Regions from separate parts of the Homo sapiens genome. Here region 2 is linked to region 1. A link means that fine-mapping ties the variant in region 1 to the expression of a gene that starts in the linked region. Tissue or cell type: nasal epithelium. Region 1 holds a variant in brackets; the other region holds the start of a gene. All regions are shown on one strand. Distances are between the middles of the regions.

The links. PIP is the estimated chance that this variant, and not a neighbour inherited with it, causes the effect.
Region 2: it holds the start of SLC2A9-AS1, and the variant in region 1 is fine-mapped to the expression of SLC2A9-AS1 in nasal epithelium (TOPMed, PIP 0.94).

The regions. Positions count from the first base shown.
Region 1 is chr4:10,047,335-10,057,779 of GRCh38, reverse strand. No RefSeq gene overlaps it. Among named protein-coding and RNA genes, the nearest start is that of MIR3138, 26 kb to the left of the region's middle. The variant T/C (reference allele first, on the strand shown) is at 5,669.
Region 2 is chr4:9,982,515-9,992,959 of GRCh38, reverse strand. It overlaps SLC2A9-AS1 (SLC2A9 antisense RNA 1), which reads right to left and starts at 4,837. Exons shown (of 4, transcript NR_183862.1): 1 at 4,816-4,837. It overlaps SLC2A9 (solute carrier family 2 member 9), which reads left to right. Exons shown (of 12, transcript NM_020041.3): 4 at 7,167-7,291.

The DNA of each region.
Region 1 (10,445 bases):
GTGCTAAACTACCATTAATTTTCCAAGAGTTTGTTTTTTGTTTTTTGTTTTTTTTTTTTTTAGGGTTTCTACGAACACAATGGCAAGATCTGGAACCTATGCCAGTTCTTGTTTCCTCCTTTTCAGTGGCCATAACCTTGATTTACGTCTCAGGGACCCAAGTTCCATAAAAAGCTTTAGCGGTCAGAGTCATACATCTCAGACTGTCAGCATCTACTCCAGGCCAGTCGCTTAACCTCTCTGTGCCTCAGTTTCCTCATTTGGAACGTGGAGCCATCATGGAATCTTCCTCGTTGAGTTATTGTGAGGGTTAAATAAGACAATACCTGCTTTAGCACAGTGTCCAATTCAAAGCTCAATACGTTTATTGATAAAGCATCATCATTGTTATATTTTAACAGGAACTTAAAAATGAAAGGGAGGAGACCCCAAGTTGTTAACACCATGCGGGGTGGCAGGAGCAGGCAGCAGGGGACAATGACACCTACCAGGCCTCCTTCCTCCTTGGGGGATGGGGCTGCATGCATTCTAGGCAGCATCTTATTTATCAAGAGTTTCAGGGAGGTGAAATGGCAGTACCAGCATCCCATTACTAACTTGAAGTGAGACTCAAATCCAGCCCACCTCCCTGCAAAGCCCATGCTCACCTCCCCAAGTCACCATCCTGGAGGGAGGATTTGCTCGGCTCAGAGGTTCTGAACCCTGGCTGCATGGAGGAACGTTGCAGGTTCTCTAACAATCTCTATCGATGCCTGACCCCACCCTCGACTAAATGACTTTGACGCTCTGAGGGTACCTTGACCTCAGCATCTTTTCACAGCTCTCCATGTGGTTGTCATGACCAGGGATGAGAACCACAGGTGGCCTCACTCCGGCATCTATAACACTGACGTTTCAGGCAGTAACTATGGAAACCTGGCCCAAATTCTAGATGAACTCACACACACCCGTCTCTTGTTAATAAATGAATTTGTCCATTGCTGCCTATGATGGTTATTTTTAATGTATCAACTTGGCTGGGCCACAGTGTTCAGATATGTGGTCAAACATTAATCTGGATGTTTCTGTGAAGGTTTTTTTTTTTTTTTTTAAATGAAACTCACATTTAAATCTGTGGATTTTGAATACAGCGGATTGCCCTCTATAACATGAGCTGGCGTCATCCAATCATTTGAAGGCCTTACTAGAACAAAGACTGACCCTATCCTAAGCAAGAAGGAATTCTGCCAGCAGATAACCTTTGAACTTGGGCTATGGCTCTTCCCTGGAACTCCAGCCTGTCTTACAGGTTTTGGATTTACCATGCTTCCACAATCATGTGCACAAATTTTTCTTTTTTGAGACAGCGTCTTACTCCTGTTGCCCAGGCTGGAGTGCAGTGGCACAATCATGGCTCACTGCAGCCTCCACTTCCTGGGCTCAGATGAGTCTCCCACCTCCACCTCCCCAGCAGTTGGGACTATAGGTACACTCAATCACACCTGGCTAATTTTTTGTATTTTTTGTAGAGATGAGATCTCACTATGTTGCCCAGGCTGGTCTAGAACTCCTGTGCTCAACTGATACTCCCTGCTTGGCCTCCCAAAATGCTGGGATTACAGGTATGCGCTGCTGCACCTGGTCGTGTGTGTCAATTTCTTAAAAAATCTCTCTCTGTGTACATACACACACACACACACACACACACCCTGCTCCAATTCTCTGGAGAACCCTGATGAAACACTACCATGATAAAAACTGGCCTCTTACTCAGCACAGTCATAAACAAAGCATCCCACTTGTATTAGTCTGTTTTCACGCTGCTCATAAAGACATACCTGAGACTGGGAAGAAAAATAGGTTTAACTGGACTTACAGTTCCACATGGCTGGGGAGGTCTCAGAATCATGGCGGGAGGTGAAAAGGACTTCTTACATGGCAGCTGCAAGAGAGAATGAAGAAGGAGCAAAAGCAGAAACCCGTGATAAACACATCAGATTTCATGAGACTTACTATCACTAGAGTAGCACAGGAAAGACTGGCCCCCATAATTAAATTACCTCCCCCTGGGTCCCTCCCACAACATGTGGGAATTCTGAGAGAGACAGTGCAAGTTGAGATTTGGGTGGGGACACGAACAAACCATATCACCACTCTGGCTTGTTTTGAAAACCCTGAGCAGACAATGAGTGTCACAGAAGCACAGGATATTCAACCTTGCCAGGGGCAATACAGAGCACCTGGTCTAACTAAAATAGAACACTAGAGTTAGAAATAACCCTGGGGCTATTATGCCCCCCAGGGGACATTTGGCAATGTCTGGAGACATTTTTGGTTGTCACAACTGAATGGGGGTGCTGCTGGCATCTGGTGGGCACAGGTGAGGGACACTGCTCAGCATCCTAGAGTGCATAGGACAGGCCCTGCAACAGAAGTATCCAGTCAAAAATGTCATGGTGCCAAGGCTGAGAAACTCTTGTGTTAGGAGGAGGAAACACTTCATCATTGTGGAAACTAACTTCTCATCTCACAAAAGGTGATTGGGATCTCACAAAAGGTGATTTGGAGGGAGCCCTAAAGAGGCAACAGGAACCTTTTTGTGTTTTTTGTAGAGATGGGGCCCCATTATGTTGCCGAGGCTGATCTCAAATTCCTGGGCTCAAGCGATCCTCCCACCTCAGCCTCCCAAAGTGCTGGGGTTACAGGTATGAAACACCGTGCCTGGCCAACAGGAACCTTTTTGATGAACTGGAAAAAGAGCTTGGGGGAAAATATTACTGGCAAGGCCAGAACACGTTGGAGAAATTCTTTAGAAACCAGCTTTACCTTGGAGGTAGGACCAGGAGTCTAGCCAATGGGAGCTTCATGGACATGAATGTGTGGCTTAAATTACATTGCTGTGTGGGCATGAATCAGACGCTCTGCCCATGAAGAGTTCTAGCACCAAGTCAGTGCAAGACCCGAGGTGGTGAGTGGCCATCTGTGTTTTCTTGCTGCAGCTGTTGTTGTTGTTGTTTTAAATATCAGGAGCAATCTGATAAACTTTCTAGAGGAGCCCAGTACAGAGAACTAGGATGCCAGACTGGCTGTCTCTCTGCTAAGAATTATCCTATTGTTCTGACTATAAGATGTGCATGACTTCACATTTTAACCTTTTGAAAATTGGGACACATCCAGGCAGTAGCAGTCATGTGTGATGTTCAGAACACAATGCCTCGTTTCCTCAGTAAAGGTTTACTAAAAGAGTTCATGAGTAAGTGGGAAAAATGAATTAGGTACTAAACAAATAAATAATATTTTGGTTTCTTCATTTGTAAGTGGAGAGATTACAACAAAGTTGTACGAATCCATGGGAATGACATATTCAAGTGATTGAAAAAGGTTAAGTTTCCTTTGATGTTCCTCTCTCTTGCTTTTCTTCTCTCTTGTCTTTGGATGATGTTAAAAAACAAAGAAAAATTGAAAAGTAGAGCTGCATTGAGATGAATGTACCTTAACCTCAGGAAAGCAAACACACACACAACCAGAGGCACAGAAGCGGGTTGGGCAACACGTGGCTCCAGGGGCACATGAATTTCCAGTTGAGCATCTTAATGTATGACCGATTCCATACGAGGCAAGTGCAATGTGGCTACCTTGAATCAAACTAGTGAGTCCTCTGGCTATCCTAGTAGGGGCACTAGAAAGGAGAGGGCAGATGTGGCTCCAATCAACGGCATGGATGGGCTTGGGCCCCTTGGACACCGCACACTAGGACAGACACAGAGGTTACAGGGGCCCTGGCTGATGTGGCAGGGTCCCTCGCTATTGTCTCCATTCATTCACTTATTCATTCCTTCAGCAAATCATTGTTAGTGCTGAAGTAGTTTCCTGTGGCTGCTGTAACAGATTCCGACAAACTTGGTGGCTTAGACAGCACAGGTTCATTATCCTACAGCCCTGGAGAAATTAGAACTGTGTCTCACTGGACTAAACAGGATGTCAGCAGGGCTGTTCCTTTCTGGAGGCTCTGGGTGGGGTCTGTTTGTTTGATTTTTTTAGAGCTTCTAGGGGCTGTCTGGGTTTCTTGGCCTATGGCTTCTTCTATCTTCAAAACCAGCAAGGGTGAGCTGGGTCCTTTCCATGTCACATCTTTCTGACACATCTCTCTGACTCTCTTTTGTCTCCTCTCCCACCTTTTTTTTTTTTTTTTTTTTTTGAGACACGGTCTCACTCTGTCACCCAGGCTGGAGTGCTCAGCCATCACGGCTCACTGCTGCCTTGATCTCCCAGGCTCAAGTGATCCTCTCACCTCAGCCTCTAGAGTATCTAGGACTACAGGCATGCACCACCATGCCGAGATAATTTTTAAAATTTTTTAGGGGCGGGATCTCTGTATGTTACCCAGGCTGGTCTCGAACTCCTGGCCTCAAGCAATACTCCACCTCCTAAATGCTGGAGTTACAGGCATGACCACCAGGCTGAGCTCCTCTCTTGCTTTTAAGGGCCCTTGTGATGACAGTGGATCCACCCAAATAAACCAGGATGATCTCCCTGTTTGTTGTTTGTTGGTTGGTTGGTTGGTTTTTTGAGACGGAGTCTTGCTCTGTCGCCCAGGCTGGAGTGCAGTTGTGCGATCTAGGCTCGCTGCAAGCTCCACCTCCCGGGTTCACGCCATTCTCCTGCCTCAGCCTCCCGAATAGCTGGGACTATAGGTGCCTGCCACCATGCCTGGCTAATTTTTTTTGTATTTTTTAGTAGAGACAGGGTTTCACCATGTTAGCCAGGATGGTCTCGATCTCCTGACCTCTTGATCCACCCGCCTCAGCCTCCCAAAGTGATGATGATTTCCCTGTTTTAAGGTTAGCCAATTTACAACACTCATTCTCTCTGCCACCTTAATTTCCCTTTGCCAGGTATGGTGACATATTCACAGCCTCCTAGGATTCAGATGTGGATATTTTTGGGAGCAGGTGGGAAGCACTAATATGCCTGCCCCACCAGTTCCTAGGCTGTGCCAATATTGTGCTGATTATACATGGGGCAGATCAGAGGTGATCTCTCCTCCCACAGGGAGTATGCATTCTAGAGAGGAGGACAGCTCTCCAAGAGTAGTTATATATATCAAGTAGTACTAAGTGATACAAGAAGACATCTTATGGTCCAGGGATAGAGAGTTAAGGGGTGTAGTGTGATTGTTTTTGAGAGCATGGTCATGGAAAGCCTTTCTGTAAAGGTGATAACAGAGCAGAGACCTGGATGTTGAGAAGGAGCCTCTGATCTGGGGCAGAATAATCCAGGCATAGGGGAAAGCAAGAGCAAAGGCCCTGAGGCATGCACAAGGAATTGTCAGAAAGCCAGCCGTGTTGCCGGGGCAAGGTGAAAAGGGGGTCAGAGAAGGGAGATGATGGTGATCAAAGCAGGGATCAGATTACTGGGATGTTATGGGCCAAGTGGTTTGGGATTTGTTGTTGTTGTTGTTTTGTTTTGTTTTTTTGTTTTATTTTGTTTTTTGTTTTGTTTTTATTTTTGGAGACAGAGTCTCACTGTGTCATCCAGGCTGGAGTGCAGTGGTGCGATCTCGGCTCACTGCAGCCTCCACCTCCTGGGCTCAAGCAATTCGCCTGTCTCAGCCTCCCGAGTAGCTGGGGTTACAGGCACGCACCACCACGCCTGGCTAAGTTTTGTATTTTTAGTAGAGACGGGGTTT[T/C]GCCATGTTGGCCAAACTGGTCTCGAGCTCCTGACCTCAGGTGATCCACCCGCCTCACCTTTCCAAAGTGCTGGGATTACAGACTTGAGCCACCACTCCCGGTCCCTGGGTTTTAATTCTGAGGAAAATGGGAAGCCACTGGAGGGCTTTAGGAAGGGTGGCAGCATGCTCTGATTGACACTGAAAATGATCACCTTTGTTGCTGAGTGCGATCGGTTTGCGGGGGACAAGGGTGGAGGCTGTGAGAGCTGGTGGGAAGGCATCTTGGCTGGCTGAGAGTAGAGTAATGAAAACAGGCAGCCGCGGGATCTGTTTTGTGGTGGAACCCATAGCGCTGCAGACAGAGTACATGTCAGGTGAGAGAAATATGGAGGGATCAGGGAGGATTAGACTCTGCCTGAGCCAACAAAGTCTCCTTAAAGGGAGGGGCTGGTTAGCCTGGAGCAGAGACCATCTGGATCAGGGATTCATGAACACTCCCTTGAAATGCCTGAATGCCTGTCATGGGGGAACAGATTCTCTTGATTCTCTCCGCCCTTAGATGTGAAAACAAAGCCCAAATGAAGGACAGATAAAGAGAGGGAGATATCAGCTAACCTAGACATCTCATATTGGAAGTGGCATGAGCTGCGGGGCCAGAGGAAACAGCATGCAACCCTGACTCTGCTGTTCCAGTGCTGGGATTGGGACAGGTTATCTGAAGTCTCTGACATGACATTTCACAATCTCTAACGTGATAGAGGTAATGTTACTATAATACTAAAAACAACAGCACATGCTTACATATCTGTGATTTGTGATGTGACAAGAAGTATATTTTGATCTCTGCTCTCAGTTCCTGAGATAAGAATCCTAAAACCCTGGTAGATAGGGGTGCTAGGAGAATCTTTTGTTCTAATCGATTTAGTCTTTTCCTCTTGGTTCCTGACACACAGCTCCTGAATCCCTTGGCATTTCCAGGGTGATAGGGGCATTTCCTCTTCTAATGATGTGACTCTTGGTGGGCTCCTCGATAGCCCCAGGGTGGGGGGCTGGTTGCCAGGGTAACCAAGCATGTGAGTAAAGGGCTGGAACTTTGATCCCCACCCTTTGAGGAGAGGAGATGGGCTGGAGGTTGAGTTGATTACCAATGGCCAGTGATGTCATCAACCATGCCTATGTAATGAAGTCTCCATAAAAACCCAAAGGGACAGGGTTTGGCGAGCTTGCAGGCAGCTGAACATGTGGGGATGCCTGGAGGTGGGGAGGTGCCATCAGTAAGGGCATGGAAGCTCCCTGTCGCCTCCCCACACCTTTTCCCACGCATCTCTCCCATCTGGCTGCTCATCTCTATCCTTTGTAACATCCTTTATAATAAATGGGTCATCGTAAGACAAGTATCTCCCTGAGTTCTGTGAGCCGCTCAAGCAAATTAATCAAACCTGAGGAATGGGTCACAGGAAACCCCAATTTATAGCCAGTTGGTTAAAAGTACAGGTCACAACCTAGGGCTTGTGACTTGCATCTGAAAGGGGGGCGGTCTTGTGGGACTGAGCCCTTAACTTGTGGGATCTGACGCTCTCTAGGCAGACAATGTCAGAATTGAATTGAATTAGAGGATGCCCAGCTGGTGTCTGCTGGAGAATTAGTTGCTAGTGAGGATAAATCCTCATGCATTTTTGGTGACCAGAGGTGAGTGGTGTGTGTGGGAAACTAGGAGAGACTGGTTCTTCCTGTCTCTCACAATAGCGCTTTTAACATGTGAAACACAGTTCTAACAGCTGTGTGTGTGGAAACTCATTCCTCACAGCAGCCTGAGGACACAGGTGCTCCTATCATTGCCATTTTAGAAAGAAGGCACAAGGAAGTTGAGTTATTTGCTTAAGGTCACACAGCGAGTATAGGGCACCGTCATCATACATCATACAATCATCTCTACAAGATACAGACTGCCTGTCCTTCACCTCCACCTATCAAACACATCAGTCAAAACACGGCATGTGCCATTATTAACTGTTTTGTGATGACACAATGCTATTTAGTTTCAGGATCAAAATTCAGCATGCTCTCAAAGTCTGGAATTGTGGCTGGAAGCGAACACGTTGGCATATAAAGTGGATAAAAGGCAAGACAGTTCTTCCTTTAGATTCTAGATTCAATCACACAAACTCACTCTATAGCCCTCAGACCACAGCTGGAATGTTTTTCCCCAATGGTGATGATCCTTGGGGGCTGCGGCTGACCAAGGGCCGCGGCTCCTCTGCAGAAAGTCCAGGTTGGCACCGTGGTGGACCCTGGAAAAAAGGTGTTCTCAAGGGGGGCACCTCACTAGGCTGTTTGCCTCTCCTCCCTCTGGCCTCTTGCACTGCACTTCTGGTTGCATTAAACTTCACAACCCACTATTTTGGAAACATGGAATAAAAGGGCTTCAATCACATGACAGTGGCTGGTACTGTCCAGATCTGAGTGTTGCACAAGAACGTACTTTGGTAGTAATTCAGCCATCCTTTCGTTATATGTTAAGTCCTAAGGCATTGAGGTTTTATTGAGTACTTTCTAAGAGCTGGACACCACTGGGGATACAACAGTGAATAGGACAGACACAGTTCTGCCTCATGCTGAGCTTTTGTCAACAGACAAAATGATTGTCAAGAGTGACAAATACACCATGCGCTGGCTGGAGCATGAAGGGAGGACATGGTGGAAATGCAGATTGTCCTCCAAGTTCAATGAGAAGCACTGAGGGACGATCTGGCAGGAGAGTGATGAAGGCTGGGCTGGGAGTGGCAGCCAAGCAGGAAGAGAGATAGAGCTGAGATACAGCTTGGATCAGATTCAATACCAGATTGATGGATGGATGAGGTTAAAAAGGAAGCAAAAGGAATCAAAGGTGATGCTGAGCTAAACAAGGAAGCTGGTGGGGTTATCTACTGAGATATTGAGGCAATCACAGGGCCAGTGATAAGAGAAGACTTTGGGGGAGAAACTCAAGAGTCTGTGAGTCACCACATGGTTATGTCAGGTACACAGCTGAATATGCAGGTCTGGACCTTAGTTGAGCTGTCTGGACTAGACATTCTGGTCCAGTTTTTGTCCCCTGTAATGTAAACTACTTCTGATCTCCTTTTCTGAGAGGCATGGAATTTAAAATTCCACTTGCCAATCAGTGGCTGCACTCAATATGCCTCAGGCTTTGTTAATCTGCACTAGAACAGACACCACATCAGGCAGCAACTGCAGGTGGGGCTACCACTTGGCTATGTTTCTAAAGTTCCAGGGTCTTCTGCTATGATCCATATAATTTTTATAGGATCGGGCTAGTGAATCAAATAGCATGTGAGAGGCACCACTGCTCCTGGATGCTTCAAGACTCTGAGGATGGCCCTAGCCCTTGCCATTTTCCTGGGATGCAATATCGTTCCTCCTTCTCTTAGCCACGTAAGAGAAGAGAAGAGAAAATCATTCCCTATCTTGGCAGGAAGTTGAAATTCCAGGGCTCCAGTTGGTCTTTTCTACTGTAATAACTTTTACACTGCAGGTCAGGGGCAGAGTGAGGGTCCTCCCGATGGCTAAGAGTGTCCTTCCTACAAACATTTAGGGCCCAGGGAAATGAGCGTGGGGTGGGTGTGGGGACTCAGTGCACTACCATGAGACACACCTGGGCCAGAGCTCTATTTGCTACCTGACTCCCATATGGCCAATGATAACAGGGGAGCCTGGGTGATGTTTTGGATTCCTGGATACCAGCATCAACCCAGACCCTGTATCGAACAGCACCAGAAACATCTCTTACTTTCCCCTAGTGCATGGTTACTTGAGTAAGTGGCCACAGGGTCTTTAGGGGTATTAAATGAGGGAGTCGCTACTGTCTCTACTTCAAGTTCTACCTTGAGGCAAGGGAACCTGCCATTTACGCCCTTGTATCAGGAAGTCATTGGCCAAGCCTGAGGTTGGTGGCCTGCCCAGTAAGGCTTCCTGTTGGCTGGGGGCTGTTCTGCGGAAAAGGGAGCAGCTGTGAGATTCTATCAGCACCATTTCTAGCAGGAAGGGACTAGGATATGGACTAACAGAGGGGCTGCAGTTGGAATATCAGTAGCATTCGCCAGTCATCTGCTGAGGGCAAGAGATAGATGGGGAGGTTAGAGAATTACAGAAAACAAAGGAGGCTCAAGAAACACTTTTTAGAGAATGAGATTTTGGATAGCATGCCACCCATCTGAGCATGGCAACATGTGTTGTGATGGAATCTGCATTAGCCAGTGTTCTCTAGAGAAACAGAACCAATAAAAAGATAGAGAGAGGTACATAAATTTACTATAAAGAATTGGCTCATGAAATGATGGTGGGCTGATAAGTCCCAAGGTCTGCAGTTGGCAAGCTGAAGACCCAAGATTGCTGACAGTGTAGTTCTAGTCTACATCTGAAGGCCTGAGACCTAAGAGAGCCAATGGTGTAGTTCTCTTCGGAAGACCAGTAGGTGCAAGACCCAGGAAGGGCTAACATTTTTGTTCAAATCCAAAGGTAAGAAAAAGACCAATGATCCAGCTCAAAAGCAGTCAGGCAGGAGGCATCCCCTCTTATCTGGGAGAGGGTCAGCCCTTTTCTTCCAGTCAGACCTTCAGCTGATTGGACAAGGCCCACTCACAGGGGAAGGGCAGCCTGCTTTAACTCAGTCGGCTACTTCAAATGCTAATTTCATCCAAAAAGACCTTCACAGAAATGCTGAGAGTAGTGTTTGACCAAATGTCTGGGCACCTTGTAGTCCAAGCATATTGATGCATACAGAACCATCACATTA
Region 2 (10,445 bases), 65 kb after region 1:
ATACAAGAGGCAGCTGCTATGCCCTTTAATTTTTAAATCTGTAAAGTGCAGATAAACAAACCCACCTGAGGGAGCAGCTATGAGGGTGGAACGAGATCAAATTTACAGTGTCTCATGTCACTAAGGAGGCTTTTTGAATGCCTGTGACAGGAACCCAAAGCAAACTGGCTGAAGCCCAAAAGGGAATTACTTGGCTCACAATAACTAAAATATAACTTGGTTGAATCCAGTGGCTCAGATGATAGCTTTTAAAAAATCCAAATCTGTCTCCACCTCTCAGCTCACCTTGCTTTGTGTTGGCTCCATTGTCAGGCAATCTCTCCCATGGAGGTATAAGATGGGCCCAGCTTGGTGGAAATTCTCCTTCCGATAGTTGTGATTAAAGTCCCAGGCATGAATCTCTTTGACTTGAGCGAGGTTGCATGCGTTCAAGGGTTCTCAACCAGAGGGCAATGTTGCCTCATCAGGGGACATTTGACAATGCCAGGAGATGTTTCTGGTTTTCATAACTCAAGGGTGCTACTAGCATCTAGGAGAAGCCAGGGATGCCTCTAAATATCCTACAATGCACGGGACAACCCCCACAGCAAAGAATTTTCCAGTTCCAAATGTGAATAGTGCCAAGGTTAGAAAATCCTGGCAAATAACATTCTAACACTCTGGATTAAGTGCTTTTAAAAAAGCACATCTTAAATGCCTTGAGAATGATGAGTGATTTTATGTTGACTGGCCAGGCCTGTACCACGCATCCACTCCTGAAGCCATGGTTAGGTGGAGACAGGCAGGAAGGTTTCTTGGTGGAAATTTGAGGAACTCCTCCCAGAAGAAGGATGGAGGTTCGGTGAGCACAAACAACAGGCATCCCATACATCACTCCAGGGAAATAGCAGGTTGTCAAAAGGACTATTTTTGCTTTCATCATTTTCTACTTCAACCCTTTAAAAGGCATCTGTATTTTATAGTAGTAGAAAATAACTGTGTCTCTCTAGGTGCCTGCTGGAGGAGCCTTCAGTGTATGTGGCAAGCATGCATTGGTTAGCCCAGGCTGCCATATCAGAATACCACAGATGGAGTGGCTTCAGCAAACAGACATTCATTTTCTCACAGTTCTGGAGGCTGGAAGGCCAAGATCAAAGTGTCGGCAGGTCTTTTCCTCCCGAGGCTTCTCTCCATGGCTTGCAGATGGCTGCTTTCTCGCTGTGTGCTCCCTGTGTGTGTGCATCCCTGGTGTCCCTTCCTCTTCTTACAAGGACACCAATCATCCCACATTAGGGCCGCTTCCTTGTGACCTCATTTTAGTTTAATTATCTCTTTAAAGGCCCTGTCCCCAAATGCAGTCACATTAGGGGTTAGGGCTTTAACAGGTGAGCCTTAAAAAAATCCAAATCTCTCTCTTTCTCCACCTCTCAGCTCAGCTTGTTTTTTGTTGGCTTCATTGTCAGGCAGTTTCTTCTGTGGAGGTGCAAGATGGCCCCAGCTTGATGGAAATTCTCCTTCCAATCATTGTAGTTAAAGTCCCAGGCATGAATCTCCTTGGCCCGAGCGAGGTTACATGCGTTCAAGGGTTCTCAACCAGGGGGCAGGAACATAGTTTAGTCCATGACTGAGCAACACACCGTGCTGCTGACAACCTCTTCTTTCAGGCTGGAATTGTCTCAGAAAGTCAATTGCCCAGAAGCAGAGCCTGAGGCAGGGATTGGGATGCACACATGGCTTGTGGAGGAAGGGCTCTTCAGGAGTAATCTTTAAGGTGGGGAAAGCAGAAAGCAGCAGGGGAAGGAGCCAGGCAAGGCTGCACTCCCTGGTCAAGTTTAGCCTCACTTGGGGGAGCTCTGGGGCATAATCACACCACAGAGTCACCCAACTTGAAGTAAGGGGGCTGCATCCACCCCTACCACTCATCTGTCACTCGCTGCAGGCAGCACTGGGAAAGGGGGATCCACCTTCAGAGCCAATGTCAATCTTCTGGAGAAGAGTCAACCCTGAGCCTTTAGAAGCCAGCATTCATTGAGCTGGGGGAATCCCTGAGGGGATAGGGAGATAACCAGCCAGCCAGGAAACCTGATCCTCAACCCTGCTTCTCCCAGCCTTAGAAGACTTGACTAGTCTTCTAAGCATAGTGAGAATGGCAAGAACTCTGGAAGAAGGAAACTTGGGTTCATGATGGGACATAAGGAGAAAGCCTGGGCATGGTAGATAAGACCAGAAGACTTCGGGACGGCAGGGTTCCAAAGTGTAAAACAAAGAGTCAACACATCCAAAACAAGAGGCTTCAATGGTACAAGCTGTCCCTGCATCACTGGTTTGTTTTATTATGGACACAACCCCTTTGGTATTACAGACGCATGAGCCGGGAAAGCAGGGTTAGAAATCATAAGAAATCTTCAACCCCATCCCCCACTGCCTAGGACATATCTACCAGAACTAAATATTGGCCTTCTCTGAGCTCACACAGGACTTTCAGTTCCCTGTGTTACGTCACTTGGCATTTTGGGTTGTACTCATTTCATTATGTTCCCGTCTCTTCCCTGATAAGGGAGCCCTTCAACGTAAGAACCATATGTATTTATGGCCCCTAGCACCCAACACAGCAGCTTGTACACAGCAGGCAAGCAGTAGACATTTGTTGGATAAATGGAAGGATGGGTGGAAAATGCTCGATGCTTGAATTTTTCTATCACATCTCCCCAGTGTGGCCATCCTTGCTTGCATCTAAGCATCCTTGTATGCTTGCACACTTTCCGTTCCCTCATCCGATTATTTACTCACCACATATCTGTTGAGTACTTTCTATGTGCCAAGCACTCAGGCATGAGCAAAGCTGCCAAAGTCCCTGTCCTCCTGAAGCATGCAGCCAAGCGGGGAGCACAGCCAAGTAACAAGCATGCAGACTGTGCCATTCGGCCTGTGACAAGGACCAATGTAGAAAACAGAGCAGCTCAAGGAGGTCAGAAGATGCTGGGGAGGGTGAAGAGCTCACCACTTTGTTCAGAGGATTCTCTAAAATGGTGACTTGTGCAGGGAGCACTGAAGGAAGCAAGGGAGTGAGCACGCTCATCCCTGGGAAATAGCTCTCCAAGCAGAGGAGGCAGCAGGTGCAAAAGCCCAGGGGCAAGAAGAGGCTCCACTTCTTTGAAGATGAGAGTGGAGGTCAGTGTAGAGATAATCATAGGAAGCTAGATGGGATATTTGGAGTCAGATCCTGAGGACTTTGCAGGCGAGGGTTGAGACTCTTCCTCTGAGCAAAATGGGAAGTCAGTGGAACGTTTTAAGAACTGATCTGACTTGCATTTGGAAAGGTGTGCTGTTATCAGGGGGTCTCAGAGCCTGGTTGGGAGAACCTTGCAATAGCGCAGGTGAGAGAGGACATGGTTTGCACCAGGGTTGGAAAACAAGGGAAGGCAGGTGTCTGGGCACAGATGCAGGTGCAGAAATACAAGCAGAGGGCATGTGGGAAGGGTCTCTTGGGATTGCCTCTGTGTTCTCAGTGAAAAAGAAAGCATGGTCATCAGCTGAGAATGATAAAAAGGGGATTTGAAGAGAGAGAGAAAACATATGAAATAGTCCTCTAGGAGAGAAGGGTGTTGGATGGACCAGGAATCTGTAGACTCAGTGCAGGGGAGCCTTAACCCTTCTTGAGGTTGGTGGTCATGAATTTCAGGTGAGAAAGGACAACACAGCCATATGTTTTTCTCCAGCCAAGCTGAGCTTTGTAGATGCCCAGTAGACAGAGATTTAACCAGCTGGGGTTTTGCCAGGCATATGTAATGAAAGGGGGTGGATGGGCATATAAATATTTAAAGGGATGAGCCAAGGAATTCAAGCTGGGTATGCAGGAACGGATGAACACGAGGAGGGTGAGGGATGTGGAAACAAGGCATGATCTTGGCTTATAGGCCCAGTCAGGCTGAAGATTTACTGGAAAGGTCTGTGGAGAGATACATTATTTCCATAGGTTCTCTGGTCTACTAGGGTTTAATGAAAAGTACTTTCCAAATTCAAACTGAAATAGAATTCCCTATGTCTTCCCCCAATCCGTCCTGGTGCTCTGCACCAAGTTAAAGCATGGCATGAAGGAAGGTGGCTCTCCTGCTTTCTCTGACCTCTTGTCCAGGCGAAATGTCTCCAGCCCCTTTGACACTTCTGAAGGGACATGCCCTCCAATCTCCTCATCACCCTACCATGCTTCCTTGTATTTGGTCTTTTTTTCCCCTTGAGAGCTGATGACTTTCTGGGTTTCATGGGGAAGATTCTACACTATTGGAGAAGCTAAAAACAATGAATCAGGCATCCTAGGTGGAGTTCTGGGGACACTGGAGTTCTGCTTTCAGAATTGATCTCCCTTGTTTATGTTGCTGTTCATCCACAGGAAACAAATGGAAACAATGATTAAAGTCCTGCTCTGAAGCCCAGTGAGTCAGCTTTGCAAAGGATTTGCACACATTTCCATCCTCACTGCAATGCTGTCAGGCTGAGGGTTATTTTGGGAAGGAATATATTAATATGATAAACTTGCCCAGAGAGTGTGCACTCCCGTTTGCACATGTTTCAAGTCAGACTTTCATATAATTTTAACATTCTCACAAACCTTTCATGCAGTTTTAAAATTAGCACAAAATACACCATCATGTCCAAAGTAAGGGTTCAGACCAAAGCTTTTGGAGGCATCCTTGGCTCCTCTATGCCTCTCCACCTCTGTCCAGTCCATCAGCAAATCCCACCAACTCACTCTTCAAAATATGCTAGGATCTGACCACTTCTCACTAAGTGCACTGCTCCCAGCCTGGTCCAAATCATTACCAGTGGTTGACTCACCTGTTGTGGTAGCTCCCCAGCTGGTCTCCCTGCTTTCACACTTGTCCCCTGCAGTCCAGGAGCAACAGAGAAGACAAGATGTAGTGATCTTGTTCAAGTATTAGCCGGTGTCATTCCTCTCCTTGGAATCTCCCAGTGGCTGCTATCTCCCCCAGGGGGGAAACGCTAGTTCTTATGGTGGCATAGAAGACTCTCTGAGTTCTTCTTTTCTCTTCTCAACTTTCACTTTCTACTGCTTGCTCCCTGGCTCCCTACTGCCTCCAGCCAGGCTGGCCTCACTGATGTTTCTTTCTTTCTTTTTCTTTTCTTTTTTTTTCAAGACGGAGTCTCGCTCTGTCACCCAGGTTGGAGTGCGGTGGCATGATCTTGGCTCACTGCAATCTCTGCCTCCTGGGTTCAAGCAGTTCTCCTGCCCCAGTCTCCCGAGAGGCTGGTTTAGAGAAAAAAACTTATATTTTTATATAATGAGTATAATAGCATCTGCCATAACTGAGTCCCATAATTTATGACAAGAGGCAATGTTAGCTGGTGGGAAGAGCGCAAGTTCTAAGATCAGAGACCCACTGGGGCTCTATTGGGCAAAATAATTTTTTAACCACAATTTACAAAACAATTTAATATCTGTTAACTCATTGAGTCTATAGGAAAAAAAATAAGCCGTAAAGGGCTAAGATGTTTCCCCAACTCCTTGACTCACTGACTATATGACCTAAAACAAGTTTCTAGGCCGGACGCAGTGGCTCACGCCTGTAATCCCAGCACTTTGGGAGGCTGAGGCAGGCAGATCACCTGAGGTCAGAAGTTTGAGACCATCCTGGCCAACATGGTGAAACCCCGTCTCTACTAAAAATACAAAAATTAGCTGGGTGTGGTGGTGCATGCCTGTAATCCCAGCTACCCAGGAAGCTGAGGGAGGAGAATCACTTGAACCTGGGAAGTGGAAACTGCAGTGAGCAGAGATTGTGCCAATCCACTCCAGCCTGGGTGATAGAGCAAGACTCTGTCTCAAAAATAAAAATTAAAAATAAAACAAGTTTCTAGCTTGCCAGCAACCTAGTTAACTTGTTTATAAAATAGAGATTATAAGAGTACCTATCTCTTTGGGTCATTCTGAGGATTAAATGAGCTACTAATGCAAAGTACTTAAAGCAGGGTCTATCCTATAGCAAGAGTTCAATAAATGTGGGCTTTTAGGATCATTTTGCAAAAGTGAGGAAAAGAAAACACAGAGAAATGAAGTTCAAAGTCTCCTAGCTCCTGAAGGATAGAGCTGGTGCAGGAATCCAGGTCCCCAGGCCTCCAAACAAGTCAGGTATTTGAACCATGAGGTCTTAGGCATGTGTTTATAAAAGTGATGGCAGTCCTGACACAGAGCTGTTAATAATAATTATTGCCATGGAAATTTCCCTAATCTTGTTTGAGAGGATTAGTCCAGCCATTCACTTAGTACTGTAGTTCATCAAATCTAAGATGCCATTGGGTCTGAGGAGTATTGTTATTTTATGAGCCACTGGAAAGGAAAGGAAATAAGGAAGAAAGGGAGGGAGGGAGGGAAGGAGCCAACAAAAGTTGTAGAACGCTATGCTGGTTGTCAAGCTGTTGTCTCCTAGCTCCACACTTACCCTTCTGGGCTCTCTCTCTCTGATGCTGGGGCTGGGGCCTGCACCCCCATTTGTCCTTTGCCAATAGGGGCACTAGAGGAGAGAGAAAAGACTAGCTTTTTCATGTTTGTCTGAGTTTCCTGCCAGTCCCAGTGATGACATTGGCAGTTGATTCCAGCTTCCAACTTTTGTCCATTTCCAGAACCAGAATCATATTGCTCCTCAGAGGAAACAGTCCAGTGGACAGTGCCCACTCTCAAAGGTCTTCGGGGCCCTCCTCCATGCCCCTGAGGTGTCAGCACCACATGGGAAACACCCCTTCTTCAGAGGTCTTCCTTTTTGACATCTCGGTTCTTCAATATCCACTTAACCAATTCCCTATGTTAAATTCTCTCCATTAAAATACCTAGAGTGGTTTCCATTTTCCTGCCTGGACCCTGACTCACGAATTGTAAGATGACCACTGACTTCAGAAATGTTAAATGATAGTCTTAGAATTAAAGCAATAAAATACTACCACAGAGAATTCATAGATGTCAAGGCTGATGGTGCCTTTGTAAGTGACCTAGTAGACCCCAGGGCTGAACCCAGTCACACAGCCAGAGGTGGCAAGGCCAGTGCTCCCTGCACTGTGCCTGAGTCTTGCTCTACTCACCCTTCAGAAGGGCCTGGCTCCTGCTCCTGGGATGGACAGTTCAGTGACATGCCTCATGGTTAGACATCTTCATCAAATCTTTCCTTTCTTTCCAGGAAGCACACTTTGCTGGCCAATAATGGGTTTGCAATTTCTGCTGCATTGCTGATGGCCTGCTCGCTCCAGGCAGGAGCCTTTGAAATGCTCATCGTGGGACGCTTCATCATGGGCATAGATGGAGGTGAGAGTTCACCATGACGGGGAGGGAACAGTAACATACTCCTTGGGGGTGTCCCAAAATGTGAGAAGTGTTTGGGGCTGTCACATGACTGGGGCTCTCTGCTGGCATTGACTTGGCAGGGACCAAGGATGCTGGAACTCTGCATAAAGTGGGACAGTCCTGTGGGATGAACCATCCCATTCATGATGCTCTAGCCCCTAATTGAGGAATGCTGGGCAGGGTCCGCAGTCTACCCCAAAGACCTGGATGGTCTTCAGCATGTCATGCCTTCTGTTTGGTCACCTTCATCATAATGTTAATATTCCAAGGTTATTTGTGGTTTTCATGGGGCTTTTATGAGGATGGGGTTTCTTCTCTGGGCCTCTGACTCATTCGTTATTTCATTTACTCGCCAGGCATTTGTAGAGCACCTGCGAGGGCTGGCACACTATAGGATGGAGACACAATGATTAACAAGACCCTGTCCCTGGAGCTTACATTCTAGTGGGCAGACAGATACATAAGGTAGACAGTAGCATGTCCTAGGAAGAAAACAAAGCAGGACAGGAGGGTGGTGAGGGCTGTTTTAGAAAGGCCAATCAGGGAAGACTGCTCAGAGAAGGAAACCTGAGCAGAGACCAGAGGAGCCAAGGGTGAGAACTGTTCCCAGCAGAGAGAAGAGTATTATGTCTCAGAGGCGGAAGGAGGCATGGCACGTCTGGGAAAGAGCAAGGAGATGTGTGGGTGCTGATGACGCCAAAGAGGAGCTGGGGCCAGATCACATAAGACCTTGTAGGCCACGGCGAGGACTGTGTGCCTGTGCCGAGTATGCAGGGAGGGTTGAGATGAATGTGACATGGACTGGTTTGTTCCAGTAATGGAGTATGAGGGGAAGCCAGGAGTGGAATCAGAGGAGCCAGCTGTTCAGGGGAAGGGACTGGGCTAGGTGGGGAGCTGCAGAGAAGGGGACAGATGCTGGCTATGGGAGTGAGAGTAGGAGACTCAAGATATATTGTCAGACAAACGCTGCTCTCTTTCTAAATAGGCAAATCCATAAAGTATCACTTTTAGGCATTTGTGGAAAGATTGCAAGCCTTAGGATTAGAAATCCCTGAGTTTGGATCTCAGTTCTGCTGCAAGTTACTTAATGGCTCTGAGCCTTGGTTTTCCCATTTGTAAAATGGTGGTAATAATACCTACTTCAAAAGGCTATAATAAGGCTGAACGGAAACACACACTCTGTCTCTCTCTCTCTCTCTGTCTCTCTCACACACACACATATACACATATGTACTGCCTGGAACCTAGCATGAGCTTCTTAAAGGCTAATTCCCTTCCTTGTCGATGTCTTAAAAGCTGAGGGTACCAGGTTGTTCAGCTGAGTGAGATGAACAATAAAAATGTCTCAGGGAGAGGTGAGCAGGAGAGTGGGGGCCTGGAAGTAAGGTTGAGAAGAGGAGGCTTCACTTACTTTTGTTGCCCTGCTGGAGGGGAATAATCTAGGCCTCTCTAATAGTCCAAACTCAAGATGAAATGACTCCTCAATCATTTGTCTATTCATTTGTCTATACTACTTGAATAGACTCCTTCTATTGATGGCTATTGAGAGTTTATCCATAAGAATAATGGCTGGTGTCTATGTAATGTTTTATAACTGACCAACTGTGTTCATGCTTTTCATTTTTTTTGATCTCCTCCTGTAATGAAAGACTGTTTTCTCATGTTCATTTTACAAATGGGGGCCCTAATGCTCAGAAAGCTGGAGCAGGAAAGTGGTTAAGGGTGAAGACTATGGAGTCAGACTGCCTGAATGCTCTCACTTGCTTCCATTAATTTCATTAATTTATCTGTATAGGTTAGGTTTGATGTATTTAAAAACCCCGAAACTTAAGCCATGATGGCACCACTGCATTTTAGCCTTGGCTACAGAGCGAAACCCTGTCTCTTAAAAAACAAAACAAAACTTAATGGCTTCAAATAGTAACCATTTTCCTGTGCTTTCACTTCTGTGGGTCGGCTGGGCAGTTCTGCTCTGGGCCAGCTCTGCCAATCTCTGCTGGGCCTTCTCATGTGTCTGCGGTGGCTTCAGGTTGGTCAGTGGCTGGATGACCTGGGATGGTCTCACGCCTGTGTTTGGGTGTTAGCAGGTGGCCTGGTCTCACGGGCTGTCAGTGGGCCAGCTCATTTCTTGGCTTCCCACCCTGGGCCAGGGGGGCCTGGGCTGCCTTGCATAAAGTTCTTGGGCTTCCAACAGCAGCCAAAGGAGAAAGTCCCAATGTGCACAATGTGCAAGCACTTTGCATGCACGTTTGCTGGTGTCCCTTTGGCCCAAGCAAGTCCCATGGCCACGTGCAGAATAAATGTCAGAGAGGACTAACTCCCCAAGGATGTCGATCCAGGGAGGGGGTACAAATCAGGGACCACTGCAGCAACCATTGACCTCACAGTCTTGGCCTCTTTCCCACCTGGCGTGGCAACTTAGCAGTAAGGCCTCCCTTGTTGGGTGATGTGAAAATTAAATGGGCCGGGCACGGTGGCTCACACCTGTAATCCCAGCACTTTGGGAGGCCGAGGCGGGCGGATCACCTGAGGTCAGGAGTTTGAGAGCAGCCTGACCAACATGGAGAAACCCTGTCTCTACTGAAAATACAAAATTAGCTGGGCATGGTGGCATATACCTGTAATCCCAGCTACTCGGGAGGCTGAGGTGGGAGAACCACTTGAACCCAGGAGATGGAGGTTGCGGTGAGCCGAGATCACCCATTGCACTCCCGTCTGGGCAACGTTAGCAAAACTCGATCTCAAAAGTAAATACATAAATAAATAAATAAAATAAACGATGTTCTACGTATTGAAGTACTTAGTGTAGTTCCAGGCACTTAGTGCCCCACTCCAGGAATGCTGATGGTATTATTGTCATTGTTGTTATTTGTGTTCTTAATTAATAAAGTACAGATCTAGGATTTGGGTTTCAGAGGCCCTGCCTGCTTTGGAGAAAGCCTGGATGAGGTTGCAGTGGATCTTCTGGGAAGTCCTTTCCTAGTGGAGGCAACTGAGATTCTCTGTTTGGCAGTTTTATATTTTATCCATTATCCCCTTTCTTGTTGCTTTGACTAATCTGGGGAGTTGACCCTTCGAACATATAACTAATTGATCTCTGAATTTCCTTAACTAA